Linked DNA regions of Homo sapiens: region 2 is linked to region 1. Evidence: fine-mapped expression QTL. A gene starts in region 1. The other region holds a variant in brackets. All regions are shown on one strand. Distances are from middle to middle.

Region 1 (10,592 bases):
ATGGCCCTTTCCAGAAAAAAATTTGATGACACCTGGTATAGGGACAGAGAATAGCTTGACGGTTGCCACGGTAAAAGGTGGGGAAGGAGCTGACCACAGGGAATTTACTGGAGGGTGATATAGCTGTTAATTGTGGTGGTGGTAGTGACTTGACTGCATTTGCCAAAACTCAGAACTGTACACCAAAAAGTAGATTTTAAAATATTTTATTTTAAAATAAATGTCAATGAACAAGAGGGACAGAAAACACCAGTGGTTGCTAGGGGGCAGGAGAAGAGAGGAACAGAGGAACAGAGGGGAATGTCCTGGGTGGCAGAACTGTCCTATCGATTGGTTACAAAACCATGCATTTGTCAAAATTCACAGACTAGACACTAAAAAGGGTGATTTTACTGAATGTAAATTATAAACTTTTTCATTTTTAAAAAAGAGATAATGAAGGCCAGGCATGGTGGCTCACGCCTGTAATCCCGGCGGCACTTTGGGAGGCTGAGGCAGGTGGATCAGTTGAGGTTAGGAGTTTGAGACAAGCCTGGCCAACATGGTGAACCCCGTCTCTACTAAAAAATACAAAAATAGGTTGGGCATGGTGGCACACGCCTGTAATCCCAGCTACTCAGGAGGATGAGGCAGGAGAATCACTTGAACCTGGGAGGCGGAGGTTGCAGTGAGCTGAGACAGCGCCACCGCAATCCAGCCTGGGCAACTGAGTGAGAATCTGTCTTTAAAAAAAAAAAAAAAAAGATAATGAAATGAGAGGAGCCAAACATTTACCCTAAGTGGAAAAAAAAAATTGGGCTTATGATAGGTTTTCTCTTATAGACAGTAAAAAGAAGTGCCAGGAATTTAAAGCAAAGAACAGTAAGATGAGAGAGATCTCCAATATACAAAATGTTTCAAAATTTTTTTTTAGTACAACATGCTTATACAAGAGGTAAGACTTATTTTTGTATTTGATTTGATAATTTGACTTGGAATTTTTCTGTGGGAATAAAAGTGTTAGAATGCTTATTTTTAAATTTCTCAAAATTTGCAGGCAGTAAGCAAGGCCTTAAAGCCATAGAGGGCTCTAAAACTAGTTCCATAAAGCATTTTACTGTAAAAATATGTACAGATCTTTAATAGAAAAGTATATTTCTTTACAGTAGAAAAATATCTGAACAGTCAACTTTTCTTAAGACAAAAATTCAAATGTAACATACTACCTAAACTATAAATTTAGCTAAAACTGAATCGAGCTGTTTATAAGAACTGATTCCAAAATATACATATATGAATTTACATAACCGATATGTAGAAGCTCTTCAAAATCGACTGTAAATTGAAAAGTTAAAATTGGCCTTGCCTCTGCAGTTTGGAGCTGCAATGGCTGCCAGTATCGGCTGTTTTCTTGGTGCCTGAGCTGCAGGGTGGGCCTGTCGAGGAGGGGCTGCTGTCTGGGTCGCTTTCCCTCTGGCTGTCTGTGGCGTAGGTACATGAGGTGCTCAATCTCGGCCTGGAAAGAATACCTCGAAAGAATACCACACACTGGAACTCTGTGAAGAAGTGAAGACGCTAAAAGCGGGCAGTGCTGTGTTTACTTAGAGACAGTGGAGTGGGTCCAGGGCTGTCCTCGCCAGGCTGGTTTTTAAAGCACTTTTGGTTTAGGAGTCAGCTTCATCATGGTCACTTTCATTATCATTGTCATTCTCCTCATCTTCTTCCCTCTTTTCCTCTTTAAGCATTTTCAGGTATTTACTAGCTAAAATCTTCTTTGGTAATATATCTTAAAAACATAAAGCGTACATCAGCAATTGGTTATGGTAGACTATGAACACAGCAATGCACATTTCAAAATGTACTAGTTCCTGCTTTGACCTCTATAAGAGGTTCCAAAACAAGATGAAATTCAGGCTGCATTTCTGGGTAAAATATCAAAGAAACTAGCATTGTCTCCTAACGAACGCTATAGGCCTCTTTCCAGTCCAATGAGTACAAACCATGGTGTCTCTATGAGCTGCTTTTATGAGCAACCCTGCCCGACTACCTGAGATAGCCTAGGCTAGCCCCAGGGTAGACTTAAGCTCTAACTACGGCCATGTAGACCCACCCTGAGTTTTCCCTTCAGTGGCAGGCAGGGTCCCTGTAGAGAGTAAAGGACTGCCCAGCATACGCGGCCAACCAACATCTTGTGAATGTTGTTGGCTTCACTATTGTTCTAGGTGGACCACATGACAAACACATTCAAACAGAGAAGACTAAAAGTATCTTCCTGTGACAACTCATAGTACTTTGCGGCTTGGAAAAAGTAGCAAAAAGTCTAATTTTCCGTGAGAGCAGAAGGGAGGCAAGGGGTGGGGAAAGAGCTATTGATTACTAATCATTTTTTAACCAGAATGTTTCAAAGACTAAGTACCTGCAAGAAACTGAAAAGTTTCTGATTGCTGTGCAGTGTTTGCTAAATCACTGTAAGTCAGTACTTTCTTTTCCTTTCCACTGCCGTGTCTGTAGGAATAGGTGGCTAGGCATTGAACAAAGAGCTCCTAGAACAAAATGAAAAATGCAAATGAAAGGTGTGCTTTGAAAATGTACCACAGAAATTAATTTTTAAAATTACATTGTTGATTCCTTAATTAGGCTTAAAAGTATATTAAGACTTCAGATTCTCTTGGTTTCTCAAATTAAATTACAAGAAATCACTGGGGAGGCCAGGCGTGGTGGCTCACGCTGGTAATACTAACACTTTGGGAGGCTGAGGCAGGCGGCTCACTTGAGGTCAGGAGTTTGAGACCAGACTGGCCAACATAGTGAAACCCCATCTCTATTAAAAATACAAAAATTAGCTGGGCATGGTGGCGGGTGCCTGTAATCCCAGCCAGCGGGAGGCTGAGGCAGGCGAATCGCCTGAACCTGGGAGGTGGAGGTTGGAGATTGCAGCACTCTGGCCTGGGTGATCAAGCAAGACTCCGTCTCAAAAAAAAAAAAAAAAAAAAAAAAAGAAATCACTGGGGAAAAGAAAAACATGAGGTCAGAAAGAAAGCAAAGCCAGTATCAAAATTGGCGGAGAAGCAGGCATTTTCCAGAGGCTTATTTTAGATGTCTAACTTACGAAAAAGATGAATCGTAACTGTTTAATGACCAACCTCTAGAGTAAAAGAAAGAAGCGGCCGGGAGCTGTGGCTCAGGCCTGTAATCCCAGCACTTTGGGAGGCCAAGGACGGCGGACCAAGGATGGTCAGGAGATCGAGACCATCCTGGCTAACACGGTGAAACCCCGTCTCTACTAAAAATAAAATAAAAAAAAAAAACAAAATTAGCCGGGCATGGTGGCGGCTGTAGTCCCAGCTACTCGGGAGGCTGAGGCAGGAGAATGGCGTAAGCCCGGGAGGCGGAGCTTGCAGTGAGCCGAGATCGCGCCACTGCACTCCAGCCTGGGCGACAGAGCGAGACTCCGTCTCAAAAAAAAAGAAAAAAAAATAGAAAGTAGCAAAAAGCCATTCAAAAATTCTATTTGGCTCAGGAATACCTTTTTAGTCTTCTATTTGCATACACTGTTTCTAAGGTGGTTCACCTACAACTATAGTGACCACAGCTTACATTTTGCCAAAACTTTTCTATTCTAGGAACTGACATACAACCCTCAGACCTAATGAAACAACCGGAACTGATCTTCTCCCTCCTGCATCCCAGTTCTTATAGCAGGGCCAAGTCTTCATTTTTACAGAGGCTGAACTGAGCCTCTTTCTCAAGGTTTTGACTTTAATGCATCTAGTTCAGTTAATAAGGGATGAGAAAGACGGGCGTGATGGTTCACGCCTGTAATCCCAGCACTTTGGGAGGCTGAGGCAGACGGATCACCTGAGGTCAGGAGTTCAAGACCAACTTGGGCAACATGGTGAAACCCTGTCTCTACCAAAAAATACAAAAATTAGCCGAGTGTGATGGCAGGCACCTGTAATCCCAGCTACTCAGGAGGCTGAGGCAGGAGAATCATCTGAACCCGCGAGGCAGAGGTTGCAGTGAGCAAGACAGTGCCACCGCACTCCAGCCTGGGAAACTCCATCTCAAAAAATAAAATAACGGGTCAGAAGTGCCTGCATAAATCCTCATTCCTTAATACCAATAGAATGAAATTGTATAGGAAAATACAAATGTCCCCAGATGAAATGCTGAATATGCAATTATTTCCCTGGGCTCTAGGAAAACATGGCTCTGACATAAAGCGGGCAAGAAACCTGTAATTTCCCACTTCCCTTAGTTCTAGTCCAACACTGCAGGGACATCATATACTTAACTACAAGTAGGGACTGGAAAATAGAATCCAAGACAAGCTAAAGCATTTAACTGTGTAGCTGAAACATGGCCCAGTGTCAGAACAGGAAAACATCTGGCCTAACACTATCGAGACGCAATTTTTTTAAAAAAAGACAAAATTATCTATTTTGCACCCAGGAGGATGCTAAGCAGGCTGTAAAACTTAAGTTCCCCGGACTTCCTTAAATTCTGGTTGGGGAATGTGCTGCCTCTTAGACGAGGGGCCCCAGCTGTGGCGGGCGGGAGGGCTCGAAAGCCTCGGACCGCTGGAGCTGGCACCGCACGCGCGGGAAAAGAGCCTCGAGTCGCGGGTGAAGCGCCCGGCTGCCCCTCCCACGGGACACTGGAGGAGTTAGGGCCCTCAAAGCACGAAGCAGTCCAGTGACAAGAAAAAGGCAGGCCGGGAGTAGGGAGTCGCGGGTGAAAGAGCCCCCAAAGAACCCAAATGAGAAGAGCGCCACTAGGCGCCGACGCCCACGGGTAGGGCCGGAAACTGAGCGCCGCACGCGAGGGAGGACGTGAGCGCACAGGTGGGAGGGACGAAAGGCGCGCAGAGGAACGCGGGAGCTTACGGGTTTGCCGAATGGAAGCGCGAGAGAAACGGCGGGAGGACAGTGGGGTGGGCGGGGCGAAGGTGCGCACGGAAGGAAGGGGCGGGCGGAGCGAAGGAAGGCGACAAAGGGCGGGAGAGGCGCGCGGTAGGCGAGGCGAAGAAACTGGAGAACGTGAGGGAGCGGCGAGGGGTGGGCGGGGCGAAGACGCGCGAGAAAGTGTGGGGGCGCGCGGGCACCGAAGCGCGCGCCGGCGTGGGACGGGGACAGCGGGGCGCGCGCGAGCCCGGCAAGAGCAGCCGGCGGCGCGCGGGCCTAAGGGGACTGGGCAGTGCCCAGAGCCCGGCGGGGCGGGGCGCGAGGGGTAAGGGCGGCCCACACCCCCGCCCTGCCCCCTCACCGTGGCCTTGGCCGTGAGCACCAACGCCTCCTGGTTGATGCTGGACACCTCGGGGGAGCTCTTCATGATGACCCGGATGCGGGATAGAGGCAGCGAGATGAGCCGCTGCTCCCCGCCCTTGTCTTTACCCACGACCACGTCCGCCATCTTCCCGCCCGTCGCGCGGGTGCCCGCAGCCGGCGGGCCCGACCGCGAAGTGGCTGCCCTGCCCGGCCAGCTGGTGGGTACGGGGAGCCGCGCCCGCTGCCCCGTGGGAGTTGTAGTGTGGGGAGGCGAGGCCGCGAGGCCGGGAGCGGCCCGTCCGGGAAACTACGAGCTCCGTGAGGCCTCGCGCCCCCGATCTGCGCATGCGCCGACGCTCGGACACCGCCCCCGAGTGCGAGGCCCGGCGCGGAACCGGCAGCCGAGAGCCTGGCGGGGGCGGGGCGCACCGCGCCGCTCCCGGGAGTCTCCGGGCTGCGGTCGCGGAATACGACTTTGATCCGCGGGTGAGGGCTCTGTGAATGGGCAAGCAAAGCCCTCTGACTCCGGGCCTCGTGGCTGGGTGCTGTGTGTTAAGCGCCTGCGCTGTACTAGGACCGGGCGTGCCGCCGTCGGCAAAAAGTGACGCTTTCTTGAAGCACAAAGTCCAGGGGGGACGACCAAGCGGACAGCGGATGCGTCCTGCGCCGGTAGCCAGGCGACCGGTGGAAGAGCAGAGTCCAGCGCGGGCGATGCGGCGGGGCCAGGCTTGCTGCGCCGCGGGGTGATTGGGAGAAGAGCCTTCCTGCGGGGTGGAGGACGAAGAGCTGCCCTGAGGAGGTCCCGGAGTCTGGTGGGAACGGCCTCTTCGGGACTGCTCCGAGAGACGGTGTGCAGAGCCTGGCGTGCTCGCCGAGGTCTGACAGGCAGCCCGGGGCTAGGTCCTGTTGGATTTTTTTTTCTAAGGAAAATGGGAAGTGGTGGTAGGGTTTGAGCAGTGGAGTCCCGGGCAGTTTTAAAAGGATCCCTGCAGCTGCCGGCTGGGAGGGCGTGGGTGCGCGTAAGGCCGGAATCACAGAGACCAGGTAGAAGATGATTACGAGAACCCAGGAACGTGGCCCTCAGGAGGCCGGCAGTACCAAGGGGACAGCAGCTGGGAGGAGAGAGGCAGGAGATGGTCAGGGGCCAGACCAGGGAAGGCCGCGGAGACCGCAGAATTCGCTCTGAATGAGTGGGGAGGCCCTTGGAAGAGTAAGGGGTCCAACTTAACTTTTTTTTTTTTTTTTTTTTTTGACACAGAGTCTCGCTCTGTCGCCAGGCTGGAGTGCAGTGCGATCTCGGCTCACTGCAACCTCCAACACCCCGATTCAAGCAATTCTCCTGCCTCAGCCTCCTGAGTAGCTGGGATTATAGGCACGCGCCACCCAGCTAATTTTTTGTATTTTTAGTAGAGACGGGTTTTCACCATGTTGGCCAGGATGGTCTCGATCTCCTGACCTCGTGATCCGCCCGCCTCGGCCTACCAGAGTGCTGCGATTACAGGCGTAAGCCACCGCGCCTGGCCACCAACTTAACTTCTGCCAGGATCATGGGAAGTGGTAGGGTTTGGGGTCTGATTTCAAGAGGGAGCTGCTGTGGAGTATCAGCACAGCTTACTGAGATATCAGAAAGGCCTTGGTAAAGAGCCCTTTACTGAGACAGGGAGCACATTTTGGCAGAGGTTTGAATTGGAGCGTGTTAAGTGTAGTGTCTTCTTCACCACTGTGACGTGAGGTCCTGGCGCAAATAATTGAGCACAGAAATACATGTCAGGCATTGCTAGGCACAAGGGTACAGCCAGTGAGCAGGGCTGCCATGGTCCCTGCCCTCTTAGAGCTGACCTTCAGGTCTGAGGGAGACTGAAAAATAAGTAAGAATACCTCCAGCCGGGCGCTTTGGCTCACGCCTGTAATCCCAGCACTTTGGGAGGCCAAGGTGGGTGGATCACCTGAGGTCAAGAGTTCGAGACCAGCCCAACCAATATAGTCAAACCCCATCTCTACTGAAATTATTAAAATTAGCTGGGCGTGGTGGTGGGCACCTGTAATGCCAGCTACTCGGGAGGCTGAGGCAGGAGAATCGCTGGAACCCAGGAGGCAGAGGTTACAGTGATCCGGGATCGCGCCACTGCACTCCAGCAGCCTGGGCGACAGAGGGAGACTCCATCTCAAAAAAAAAAAAAAAAAAAAAATACACCTCCAATGCTGAAAGCTACGAAGGAAACAAAACCATGTGCGAGTGATAGGGCAGCCCCTCTGGGAAGTGACATTTGTGCCCAGATCTGAAGAAAGAAAAGGAGCCACTCATACAGAAAGACTGAGACAAGATGAGCTTTCGGGACAAGTCAGGCTCTAGGGAGAACACCTGACGAGGAAAATGCCTGGGCAGTTTGAGGAACTGAAAAGCCAGTGTGTCTGGAGCTTAGTGAGGGAGGCAGAGAGCACGGGAGGTGTGGTTACCAAGGTAGGTGGGACCGGCTCTGGCCCTGGGTAAAAAGTTTGACTTTCATTCCAAGAGTAATGGAAAATAATGAAGAATTTTGAACTCGAGGTGGTGCATGCCTGTAATCCCAGCACTTTGGGAGGCTGAAGCAGGCAGATCGCTTGAGCCCAGGAGTTTGAGATTAGCCCGGGCAGCATAACAGGGCAGCATCTCTACAAAAATTTTATTTTTGGCCGGGCGCGGTGGCTCACACCTGTAATCCCAGCACTTTGGGAGGCCGAGGGGGGGCAGATCTCCTGAGGTCAGGAGTTCGAGACCAGCCTGACCAACATGGCGAAACCCCGTCTCTACTAAAAATACAAAAAATTAGCCGGGCATGGTGGCACGCGCCTGTAATCCCAGCTACTTAGGAGGCTGAGGCAGGAGAATCGCTTGAACCCGGGAGGCGGAGGTTGCAGTGAGCCAAGATCACGCCACTTGCACTCCAGCCTGGGCAACAAGAGAGAAACTCCATCTCAAAAACAAACAAATCCAGACCAGCCTGGCTAACATGGCAAAACCCCCTCTCTACTAAAAATAGAAAAATTGGCTGGGCATGGTGGTAAGCACCTGTAATCTCAGCTGCATTGGCGGCTGAGGCAGGAGAATCACTTGAACTCAGAAGGTGGAGGTTGCAGTGAGCACAGATCACACCACTGCACTCCAGCCTGGGCAACAGAGCAAGACTCTCAAAAAAAAAAAGTTTTGAAGGGAGCAGATCCACTTTAAAAGCTCACACTGGTTCTTGAGTGATGACCAAATGGCACTGTGCCTTATGCAGAGCCGACTCCTGGCAGTTTGCACAGGCTGGAGGTGGAGCTGCAGACTCCCTCTCCCTCTCGGCCTTGCCTCTGTAAATGGGAAAGCCGTTGACATTCACAAAAGAGGGGCAGGGAACTGCTACACAAGAGCAGCTACACAAGAGGGTCCTTTGGTCCACACAGGAAACAAGCCATAGTGATGACATATTTTGAAGCTGTTAGATGTTTTGTTTCCCTAGCTGGCTATTATTTTTGTATGGCTTGTCTTTCTCTTTTGAGTATGTGTGAGAACAGGATGGGTTAACATTAGGGAAGAGCACAGAAGAGGAAGGAAGGAAAGAAGGAAGGGAGGGAGGGAAAGGAGAGAGAATAGGGATGAGAAGCTCAGCTTGTAGAATTGGCAGGTGATGTTTGCAGTCATTAATCATTTGAGAAGTAGAGAGAGAAGCCAAGCAGGAAATCTTCATACTGGAAAAGAAGTGCTCACCATTAAAAAAAAAAAAAAAAAAAATCCAGTGTGGTTCACAGCTGTAATCCCATCACTTGGAGGCTGAGGCAGGAGAAATACGTGAAGCCAGGAGTTTGAGACCAGCCTGGGCAATATAACAAGACCCACATCTCTACAAAGAGAAAAAAAATGTAAAAAAAAGAAGCTTTAAACCTAAGACGGCAGAATTCAAGACTGTTGTCCTTGAGAACTTCCTGGCTCTGGAAAAAGCTCAGTGAGTTAGTCTCATCCTGTCGTTAGCTCTGTTTTTTAGGGGCTCACTTTGTCTTCACGACAGTACCTTGCACCATTCTCATGGGTATCCCAGGGTGGTGCAAGGCAGTTTTCTGCACTTCCCAGAATGCCCTGTCAGCTGGCTTCTGGGTAGGTTCTGCAAATTGGAGGCCCCTGTGAAAGATCGCTGTGGGGTGGGAGGAAGAAGCTTTATCTGCCTGCTGGCTGCAGGGTAGAGGACTGCAGTGGGGTTATAGGGATCACCACCTGCACATGTGGAGCTTTGAGCGGCTTCACTCTAAGTTTCTGCTCAACAGTGGCAGCCCTGGAGTCCTTCGGGGGCGAGTGTGGGCTCCTGGGCTCCAGGCCAGGGGCAGTCCCAGCTTCCTGATCTCGAGGTAGCGTCTCCTCCCTTTTGCTCCATAGCACCTCGCCCTTCTCAGTGACGTGCCTCCTTCTCAGTCATGCGCCTCCAGCTCTAACAATGTCCTTGAAAACAATTCTTGACCATGCGCCGTGGCTCACGCCTGTAATCCCAACACTTTGGGAGTCTGAGGCAGGCGGATCACTTGAGGTCAGGAGTTTGAGACCAGCCTGGCCAACATGTAATCCCAGCTACTCCCTCCACTTGATTTGTGTTCCTTGAAGAAATTTGCATAATCCCTGTATCTGGTTGGCAGATAGCAGAGATGTAGCCTCAGTCTTTCCTTTAAAAATTTTGCTTTAGGCAGGGCGCGGTGGCTCACACCTATAATCCCAGCACGTTGGGAGGCCAAGGTGGGCAGATCATGAGAGCAGGAATTTGAGATCGGCCTAGCCAATATGGTGAAACCCCGTCTCTACTAAAAATATAAAAATTAGCTGGGCGTGGTGGCACAAGCCTGTAATCCCAGCTATTTGGGAGGCTGAGGCAGGAGAATCGCTTGAATCCAGGAGGCAGAGGTTGAGATGAGCCGAGATCACGCTATTGCACTCCAGCCTGGGCAACAGAGGGATACTCCATCTCAAAAAAAATTTTTTGCTTTAGGGCCAATCGTGGTGACACACGCTTGTAATTCTGGCACTTTGAGAGGCCGAGGCAGGTGGATAATTTGAGGTCAGGGGTTCGAGAGCAGACTGGCCATGATGGTGAAATCCCATCTCTACTAAAAATACAAAAAAAGCCAGGTATGGTGGCATACGCCTGTAATCCCAGCTACTCGGGAGGCTGAAGCAGGAGAATCACTTGAACCCGGGAGGTTTAGGTGGCATTGAGCCGAGATTGCACCACTGCACTCCAGCCTGGGTGACAGAGCGAGACTCCATCTCAAAAAAAAAAAAAAGGGCCGGACGCGGTGGCTCACGCCTTTAATCCCAGCACTTTGGAAGGCCGAGGCGGGTGGATC
Region 2 (10,592 bases), 91 kb before region 1:
AACATCCACCTCCGACAGGTTATCTCTGCCTGTCTCATGCTAATGTCTGAAAACAACAGCTTTGGTTTCTCCAGACAGAGCTCACAAGCCCATATCACCACTCTGTGTTTAGGAGTGGCGGTTAAAGATCTAAAGAACCTGTTGTTGCTGAGAATTCATTCATTCAATGTGTTCTTCACCAAAGGCCACAGGGGAAGGTATCAGTTCCTCCAGGGGGAGCATAAAGGAGCTCAGTGCTGAGCAGATTCATTGATTATTGATTAGATCTTCCATATGTTTGTAAAATATGCGGAACAAAACGGACCGGTTTAAAGTACATAACTCAACTGCGTTAAGTCCATCATGATGTTGGGCGCGCATCACTCCATCTAGGTCCAGACGTTTCCATCGCCTGGAACAGAAGCCCTGTGCTCCATGAGCAGCTGCTTCCTATGGCCCCCTCCCACCCCCTGGCAGCCACCACTCTGTGCTCCATCTCCACAGAATGGCCTGTTCTGGATGTTGCATGTTCCTGAGGTTATACATGCGGACTTTTGTGTCTGGCTTCTTTCGCCTAACAATGCTCTAAAGGTTCATCCATGTCATAGCAGGTGCCAGTGCCCCATTCCTTTTCATGGGTGTGTAATATTCCACTGTCCTGATAGAACACATTTTTATCCATTCGTCAGTGACATTTGTTTTTTTCCATACGTGTGTGTGTGTGTATATATATATATATATATATATATATATATATATATATATATATATATATATATATAATTTTTCTTTAAGAGGTGGGGGTGAGACGGGGTCTCACTAGGTTGCCCAGCTGGAGTGCAGAAGCTATTCACAGGTACAGTCATAGCACACTACAGCCTCAAATTCTTGGATTCAGGCAGTCCTCCTGCCTCAGCCTCCTGAGTAGCTGGGACTTCATGTGGACACCATTGCAACTGGCTCATTTTTAAATTATAGAATTTTTTTTTTTTAAATGGAGTTTCACTCTTGTTGCCCAGGTTGGAGTGCAATGACATGATCTCGGGTCACTGCAACCTCCGCCTCCTGGCTTCAAGCGATTCTCCTGCCTCAGCCTCCTGAGTAGCTGCGGTTACAAGCATGCACCACCACGCCCAGCTAATTTCGTATTTTTAGTAGAGACGGGGTTTCTCCATGTTGGTCAGGCTGGTCTCCAACTCCCGACCTCAGGTGATCCACCCACCTCGGCCTCCCAAAGTGCTGAGATTACAGGCGTGAGCCACCATGCCTGGCCTTAAATTATAGAATTTATTATTATTATTATTTTGAGGCAGTCTTGCTCTGTCACCCAGGCTGGAGTACAGTGGTGTGATCTCGGCTCACCACAACCTCCGTCTCCCAGGTTCAAGCAATTCTCCTGTCTCAGCCTCCCAAGGAGCTAGGAATACAGGCACACGCCACCACGACCGGCTAATTTTTGTATTTTTAGTAGAGACGGGGTTTTGCCATGTTGGTCAGGCTGGTCTCCAACTCCTGACCTCGGGTGATCTGCCCACCTCGGCCTCCCAAAGTGTTGGGATTACAGGCATGAGCCACCGCGCCCAGCCAATTATAGAATTTTTAATTTGCTACGCTTCCAAGCCTTGCCAAGATGATAACTTTGTGTGTAACTTTGTCAGAATGTATAGGCTTAGTTTGGCTGTTCTTTTCACATTGTGCTGAAGGCATCAACTTTTGGAGAATGTTTAGTGAGTCCTTAATGCTGTGGAGAGGTTCTTGGAAACTGCGTTTTTAAGCAAAACAAAGTACATCAGGTTCTTGAATAATGTTGTTTTGTTATGATGTTGATTAGGAAAAAAATGGATTTGTTAAACATCATGTCACTTAAACTTGCTGTTTCCAAGAACTGCCAACAGTGTTAAGTGAACTGCATGCTCCTCGCTTGCTCTCGCAGTAGGTGGGGCCTCCATGCTCCTGCCTGCAAGTTCTTCCTGCGCTGGAAATGGGTGGAGGCATCTCCCTGGGTCCCCTCCTTAGGCATCAGAACCTACTTGGTTTCTTCAGACAAATTAAAATGTCATCGATGCCCTGGAAGGATATACTTCAGTGGTATTTCTTGGCATATTTAATTATGGAAAAAATCTTACCTTACTTATAGTAGACCTTTCTAAGTTGCAAATATTTTACTGTGAGCATGATTGATTTATAATTACGAAAAAGCAACTTAGTCTGCATAATTTGTTGATAGCACTGGTCATGTTGAGTATATTTGGAGCCTCGAAGGCATGGAATATTGAGCAGAGTGCGGAAAATAAAGCGGTTTTTGACACCGTGCTTCATTTTGCAGGTACTAACTGACTTGTCCATTTGCTAAGCTTCATCCCACCGGGCAATTTTCCTGCACAGCAGCTGTTACAGTCCCATTCTCACCTGGCCCCTGGGCCAGTTCGGAAGCCTCTGAGCAGGTTTGTAGCTTTCTCCTCCCTTCCTGCAGAGTGCCCTTAATTTAGCTTCATCAGCCACTTGTCATCATTCCTTTTCTTGTCCAAGTTTATAGTCAAGAGCAATGGCTGGGAACTAGAGCTACCCCTGGACCAGCGGGTGGGGTCTTCATCAGCTGGGTCCCAGCATGGCTTCTGACCTACCGCTGGGCACCCCTGCGAGAGCTGCAGACCCTCCCCTAGAAGACAGCAGTGGTGGCCTTGCGCAGCCTCAGACACACCTGGCCTGGTATCCCCGTGCGTCCTCCCTACCCCAGAGCCCTGCACCCCCGTCTGTGTTCAGCCCAGGCTGGGTTATCCCATTTCACTTTGGTCATTCCTTCATTTGCTGATATTTTTTTTAAGCTTTAGAAAATACTTTTAAGGGCGGGTGCATTGGCTCACACCTGTAATCGCGGCACGTTGGGAAGCTGACGCAGGCAGATTGCTTAAGCTCAGGAGTTCAAGTCCAGCCTGGGCAACATGGTGAAACCCTGTCTCTACCGAAAATACAAAAAAATTAGCCGGGCATGGTGGTGCACACCTGTGCTCCTAGCTACTCAGGAGGCTGAGGTGGGAAGATTGCTTGAGCCCGGGAGGCGGAAGTTGCAGGCAGCTGAGATTGTACACTGCATTCCAGCTTCAGTAAGAGAGGAAGACCCCACCTCAAAAAGAAGAAAAAAAACTTGTATTTTTTTTCAAATATGTATGAAAGGAAAGAAAGTCTAACGTATCCGCCATAGCCAGTCTTATTTCCTTACCTGAATATTTTGAAGCAAATCCCACATAGTGCACGTTTATGCAGAGATACTTAAGTGTATGTCTCTGAAAGATGAGGAGTCTTTTAAAAAACTGAATCACAGTTCCATGACCCATGATAAATGGCCATTCCTTGATGGCACCAAATACAGTCACGGGTTTTCCCAGTTGTCTTGAAAATGCCTTTTTTTTTTTTGAGATGGAGTCTCGCTCTGTCGCCCAGGCTGGAGTGCAGTGGCGCGACCTCGGCTCACTGCAAGCTCCACCTCCCAGGTTCACTCCATTCTCCTGCCTCAGCCCCCCATGTAGCTGGGACTACAGGCACCCGCCACCACGCCCGGCTAACTTTTTTGTATTTTTAGTAGAGACGGGGTTTCACCGTGTTGGCCAGTATGGTCTCTATCTCCTGACCTCATGATACACCCATCTCGGCCTCACAAAGTGCTGGAATGACAGGCATGAGCCACCGCACCCGGCCTAATTTTTGTATTTTTAGTAGAGATGAGGTTTCACCATGTTGGCCAGGCTGGTCTTGAACTCCTGACCTCATGATCCACCCATCTCTGCCTCCCAAAGTGCTGGGATTACAGGCGTGAGCCACCGCGCCCAGCCAAAAATGCCTTTTTATTGTTGCTGTGTTTGAATCGGTATTTGTATACACATAATTAGCCGTTAATTTCAACATACCTAAGCATTTTCGCTTATGTAATTTTCAAGTTCTTGAACATGAACTCCCAGCTAGATGAAAGGTGCCACTGAGCAGAGACCAGCGTGGTGCTTCTAACTTTCCGACAGTACACAGCACGCTGCACTCATTCTGATGAGTTTGAGAATATATCTGCTCCATCGCGTCGTTTCCCTGGTGCGCCTCAAGGTCTTGTGGCCTACAGCAGCATTTCGTACTGTGTCTGAGCCTCCGGGGCTGCTGGGGCTGCATGACCCAGAGGGACATCTGGTCAGAGGCCAACTTAGCCTCTCGGCCACCTTGGCTAGGGCCTTTCATGGGCCTGGATGATGGGACCACTCCATGCAGCTCCTTCACCCTGAGGGAGGGGCAGCTCATCCCCGGGAGGCAGGAGTCCCAGCAGAGGGCACAGCAGAAGCAGCTGGCACCTTTGCAAGCCCTGAGGGATGCGGAACAGTCATGCCTGTGCCATTTGCCAGGCAAGGCACATGGCTGATGTGGAGTCTGTGGAAGAGGCCGCACAGTTGCAGGGTGGAGGGTGAAGACACAAGGAGGCCCCCAGCCCAGTCCGCCACAGCAGCGTGGGGCTGGAGCAAGCCCCTCTTGAGGGAGTCTGTTAAATCCGGCCCCAGTGGAGCTCAGACACAGCTGCAGCGCGGATGAGCCTCAAGGACAGCATGCCACATGAGGGGGGCCAGGCACAGAGGGTCACGTGCGTGGCTCCACCTCTGGAAATGTCTAGAACAGGCAGAGCCATTGAGACAGAATGCAGGTGCGTGTGCCAAGGCCTGGGCTTTGGAGGAAACGGGGTGTGATGGCTTAGCGGGCACGTGGCTTCTTTTGGGGGTGACGAAGGTGCCCAGGAATTGGGTGGTTGTGTTGGTTACACAACAGTGTGGATGTGCGAAAGGCCACCTCAGTGTGCACTGGAAAATGGCTACGGTGGTAAATTTATCTGAATTTTAACAAGAAGAAAACAACCTGGCCCTGGATCCCTCCTCCCTTGCACACTTATCATCCCAGCTCCGCAAACACAGCCCGGTGTGGAGGCACCACGCACTCCGCTTTGAGGTGTGTGTTTTTGGCTGACAGACTTCCCGATGAGATCTGGGATTCCATCGTCTGCTGAGCCGGGTCCACAGGGCCAGATTAGACCCCATCTTTAATCTCCGCCACGCCGCCGTGGGGGCCTGAGTCAACCCGCACCATCCGAGGCTCCCACCAATTCTGGGCTGGTCTCTGAAGTTGGGGCCAGCAGCAGGCCTGCCTTTCGGATAGCAAATAATAGAAAGAAATCCATAATTATGTCATATAAAAGATGCGGCCAGAACACTGCACGTGGCACGGCCTGTGATCCAAAATGCGTGCAGGCATCGTCGTTAACTTTTCTTCAGTCCTCTGAGGAAGTAGAATACCATTTCGATTTGTTTTAAACTGTGAGCTCGTCTCTCTTCAGGAAGGAAATTGATCAAAGAAGCAAACACTCCTGGATATTTTGTCTGCTTGATTTTCAGCAATTTACTCCTAATTAATTATTCTGACTAGGAAAAAAATGGTACCTCTCCAGGATGCCAGTGTTTAGAATTGACATTTCAAATAGCTGGTTGGACAAATTGGAGAAATTTTCTGATTTCTGTCATTTGTTAAATTTGCTTTTAAGTATCCCTCAGGGAGCTGTATTCATTCCAAGTGCGGGGAATTAAAGTTGAATCTCCATGCAATTGAATTAGCCTGAGCCACAGGGATGGGCTGCAGAAGCCTGCTGAAGCTTACAGGGAGATTTTACTTAAAGCTAAAGCTTATTTCACGGAGTCTGTTCTGACGGTTTTCTAACGCCACCGTGATGTACAGTTTACTGTTTTATTAACATTGGAACAGTACTTCTTTTCACAATGTACAGTGATTGTAATTTAAGATAAATGTGGGAGTATTCTTATACCTAAGGAAATGCTGAGTCGAAATGCTGGATTTCTAAATATATCACTGGGGAGAGGACAGTTTTTTCCCTTTATAATGACAGTGTTGCCAACATGACCTTATAGCTATGTAGGCTGGGGATATTTTGATATGCAGTAGGAAAATGTCACAGAAGAGATAACATCAATAGAGGCTAAATTTTCCCTTCATGATATTTATTTTTAACATCTATTCTACTCTGTTAAAAAATAAGGACCCTCATGTGTTCATGTGGAAAACATAGTGACTAGGGAGAGAGGGATGTGCTCATTGCGATGGATGAAGTTCTTAAAACAAATACATGCAAACGCAGTGGTTCTTGGAGGAATCCAAGCCCTGTAGAAGCTTATTTTTCCTTCATGTAAATTTCCAGGGCTGTGTGGGCTTAGCTGCTCTGCTCCATGCAGCTATTCAGGGATTCAGGCTGCAGGGCATCTTCAACCCAAAGGGGAAAGACC[G/A]TGGAGGAGGAGGCTGTGAGGTTTCTGTGTGCTGGCCCGCCGCTGACCTGCCTATCACGTAAACCCACCAAAGCAGGGTGCCTTAACCTAGGGGTAGAAAATATTTGGGGGGAGAAAAGCAATAAAAAATATTCTAAAATTTTAAAGTACAGTATAATAACTATTTACATAGTGTTTGTTTTAGGTATTATAAGTAATCTAGAGCTGATACAAGGTAGATAGGAGGATGTGTTCAGGTTCTAGGCAAACACCAAGAGATGACTCTAGCTGGCAGACACATGCTCTGTTGCTCCAGAAAAAGAAGCAACCAGGCTGGGGCAGACAGCCCAGACTGCCATGGTTGCGGAGCAAAGGGAAAATCAGAACCTACCTGGAGACCATTCACCATATGGTTCACATCCATCAGCCTAGCACTTGCCAGGCATGATTCTAAGCCCTGGGGTAGACCAGGGGGGCAGAAACAGAGACATTTCTCTTTGGGGTGTGCCTAGTGCAGGGAGTACTGGAGATGTAGTGTGCCAGGTGGCAAGCGCTGTTGAGGCGAGCACAGCGGCGGGGGGGTGCTGGGGCTGCTGGGGGCATGCACCGTTTTTAACAAGCCAGTCAGCAGTCTCTAAGGAGGTGACATTGAACAAAGACCTGAAGGAGGTGAGTGGGTGAGCAAACCGCAGGGATTTGAGGAAAGAGTAGACAGGAAGTGCAAAGGCCCTGGGGCAGGAGCGCATTGGGTGCCTTGTGGCCGGACAGCCTCGGAACCCGTGGGAACCTGGCTGTCTCCAGGTGCAGATGAGATGCCACTGGGGAACTTGAGAGTGGAGGGATGACCCAGTCGCCCTTCCTGGTATCTCTGGCTGCTGTGTGGACACAGGGGGCCCTGGTAGGCACTGTGAAGTGATCCAGCTGGGAGAAGATGATGGCTGTGGCCTGCACACAAATGGTGGAGGTGAAGTGGACAGATTTAGACACAATTCGAATTCGGGTTTTTTTTTTTTGAGACGGAGCCTCACTCTGTTGCCCAGGCTGGTGTGCAGTGGTGTGATCTCGGCTCACTGCAACCTCCACCTCCCCGTCAATCCTACGGGGTCTTGGTGACCCACTCACTGGGGTTTGAAGGAGGCAGAGCAGAGAGAGGGGACATAGGACGGACGTGGCGCCAGCAGACATGGAGGCCTCTTTCCAGAAGGATGTAATTCTCCTCCGAATGGGAAAACAGAGAGCGTGTTTTGGATTTTTTTTTTTTTTTGACACGGAGTTTCGCTCTTGTTGCCCAGACTGGAGTGCAGTGGTGCAATCTCGGCTCACTGCAACCACTGCCTCCCAGGTTCAAGCAATTCTCCTGCCTCAGCCTCCCAAGTAGCTGGGATTACAGGCATGCGCCACCACGCCCGGCTAATTTTGTATTTGTAGTAGAGATGGTGTTTCTCCATGTTGGTCAGGCTGGTCTCGAACTCCCGACCTCAGGTGATCTGCCCGCCTCGGCTTCCCAAAATGCTGGGATTACAGGCGTGAGCCACCGCGCCCGGCCTGTGTTTTGGATCTGTAGACCCCATGACGCTGACTCCTCCGTGTGCTGCAGGAGTCTGAACAGAGGCCACAGTTAACACAAGGCTGGGAAGCAGAGGCCTCGCCAAGTGCAGGAGTAATTAAAGGACACATCTTTCGAGTAGACTTCATACATGTCCCACTTTTGTGCCTTACAGCTTTTGTTGTTTGTAAATGACATCTTTGTAAAAAATAACTTTTCTAATCGTTGCTCACACATAGGAATGCATTGTGGTTCAGCAAGCTGGCTGGATTCTTTCTGGCTCTAACAGTGTGCCTGCCAAGGCGTCTCATCTTCACAGAGGCTGTCACGTCGTCTGCATGTGTCTTTGTGTCCATTTGCCTTTTAAATCATGAGAGGGCAGGGCACAGTGGCTCATGCCTGTAATCCCAGCACTTTGGGAGGCTGAGAGATCCAGATCACTTGAGGTCAGGATTTCAAGACCAGCTTGGCCAACACGGTGAAACCCCATCTCTGCGAAAAATACAAAAATCAGCCAGGTGTGATGGTGGGTGCCTGTAATCCCAGCTATTCTGGAGGCCGAGGCAGGAGGATCGCTTGAACCCGGAAGGCAGAGGTTGCAGTGAGCCGAGATTGCGCCCCTGTACTCTAGCCTGGGGACAGACTGAGAACCTTGTCTCGGGGAAAAACAAACAAAAAAATCGTGAGAGGGTCTTGATTTCCAGACAGGTGAAGAGATGTAGATCATATAAGGGTTGTCTGCACATCAGGCACCTCATTTAGAGAGATGGCTTTGAGCACCCCGGGTGAGCGTGTGAAATTTCTCACTTAGGTGATGGCCTGGACCCCATAGGTAGTGTAAATTCAAAACGCAAACCTGGGAGTGTCGGACCTGGAGCTGCAGGTTTTAGGGGGTTGGGGGCATTCACAGGCCCTCCTGCTTTTCTTCTTTCAGCTCTGACTGCTCTTGGGCAGGCTTCGTCTTCATCATCACAAAAGACGTTGAACCCTTGGAATCCAACAGACTTTGTTTCAGATTCCAGCACGCGTTTTTCTGCTGTGGCCTGAGTGGTTACTTTGGCTTCCCCCGTCTCATGTATGAAACGAGCCGGTGATAATCCTGGTCACAGGATTTTGCGTTCTGGTTAAGAAACCACAGCGACGCCACCACATAACGGACGCTCAGCGCACATCTCTTTTAGATGCTGGCCTGTCAGTGGGATGGCAGAAACTATTCAGATGTGGTGACGATTCTGCTTTGGGGACTGCTTCCCAAGCGGGTGCATCCTGCCGGATTTTAACACTGCTGGGCATTGTGAGTGGTGGCAAGATGAGGAGGCCAACCCTGTAGTCACTGGGCTCCAGGTCTGCCTGTGAGCTGCGGAGGGCAGGGTAGAGTGGCCTCAGCGTGAGCAGCAGGATGGGAGCCTCGAGGGAGAGCTGGGTTTGGAGAAAGTGGCCTCTGTTGTCGCGTTTCTGTCATTGAGCAGATTGAGCAAAAGCAGAGGCAGGAAAACGCATGGGGAGGCTGGTGGTGCGAGCCCACGGTAGCCATGAGTCCTGCAAGGAGGTGTCTGGGTTTGGGCCCTGAAAACTTTGGAGAAGAGGTGGGTCTGCTGTACAATTGTCTTGTGCCATTTAAGGTAATTCTGCCCTGTTGGGGCAGGTGTAGCTCCAGTTTTCAGAGGAGGAAACGGGGTTGGGGAGTGGCAGGCAGAGGAAGCAGCAGGCCAGAGTCCCAGAGCAGATGGAGAGCAGCCAGCACGCGCTTCCTCCTGGTGGGGCTCAGACAGGGCTTGGCACCAGGGCTGTCGGGCAAGCGGGAGGAAGAGCTGCGGCTCCGGGGTGCGGTGCTGCCGCGCAGAGTGGACCGGTGATCCTACGGCACCGTGGGCTTGTACGCACAGGGAAATGGAGGCACTCCCAGAGGAGCTGAGTGTCAGGCCTGGCACAGGTTGGAGAAGAGCTAGGCATTCTCCTGGTAAAACCGTAGGAAAGATGGCTGCGAAGCAGGAGAGATGCAAACTCTCTCTGGGTAGAAATGTCAGCAGCATTTGGTTTTCCTCAAGTAACGGAACGCAAACGTCTGCTTCCTGTTGAGTCCTGCTGCCTTTGCCGAAGAGAATTCTTTTTGGTGCTGTGGCTTTAGAACACCTGGATAAAGCCCTGGAAGTTGTTCTCCAGCACAGAACACGCCGTCTCGGGGTTCAGACATCTTCCCATACGGGTCGTGGACGCTCTTGTGGGTGTCTGTTTCCTGACCCCGAGGTCGGCAGTGGCTGAGCTGCTGTGTGGGACCCCAGTCCCTCTTGCTGTCCTGCCTCATCTCCTCCTTTCTCACCCTCCTGGGTTAGATCTTGTACAATAGTAAGCTCAGTGTTCGACCTGGCACCTAGAAAGGAGAGCTGTGCGCCCTACAGCCCAGCATGGGGCCCCGCCAAGCATCTGCTGGCACTGGCACTGGCATCTACTGTGAGGCCCCTGGTGGGCAGGGTCATCTCTTGGTCCTCCCAGGTGGCAGATGACGCAACAGCCCGGTGATGAGTGGAACAGGCGTGTGCGTTTCAGCAGATGAGCAGGAGATGTTGATGGATTTTGCTGCCTCGCTGATAAAAATAGACATTTATTCTTTTCAAGACAGGCAGAAAGGCTAAGATGTGTTATAACCCTGTGGGACGGAACTCAGATGGCAGTTTTTCATTTTTGATGTCTTTTTTTTTTTTCTTGATTCCTTTTCTCTTAAAATTAGGCCTCAGAAGCTAATCCTGTAGATCAGGCTGAAGCTGACAGGA

The links.
Region 2: its variant is fine-mapped to the expression of CHRAC1 in whole blood (TOPMed, PIP 0.97).

What each region holds. Positions count from the first base shown.
Region 1 is chr8:140,506,299-140,516,890 of GRCh38, reverse strand. CHRAC1 (chromatin accessibility complex subunit 1) reads right to left here and starts at 5,569. Exons shown (of 3, transcript NM_017444.6): 1 at 5,245-5,569; 2 at 2,396-2,522; 3 at 1-1,765. The coding sequence starts at 5,391. The coding sequence ends at 1,644. RefSeq lists enhancers at 4,507-4,816, 5,877-6,086, 6,097-6,176 and silencers at 4,857-5,866, 8,044-8,224.
Region 2 is chr8:140,597,628-140,608,219 of GRCh38, reverse strand. All of the region lies in intron 1 of AGO2 (argonaute RISC catalytic component 2), which reads left to right. Among named protein-coding and RNA genes, the nearest start is that of ERICD, 31 kb to the left of the region's middle. RefSeq lists enhancers at 8,898-8,987, 8,998-9,067, 10,448-10,497, 10,227-10,592. The variant G/A (reference allele first, on the strand shown) is at 6,297.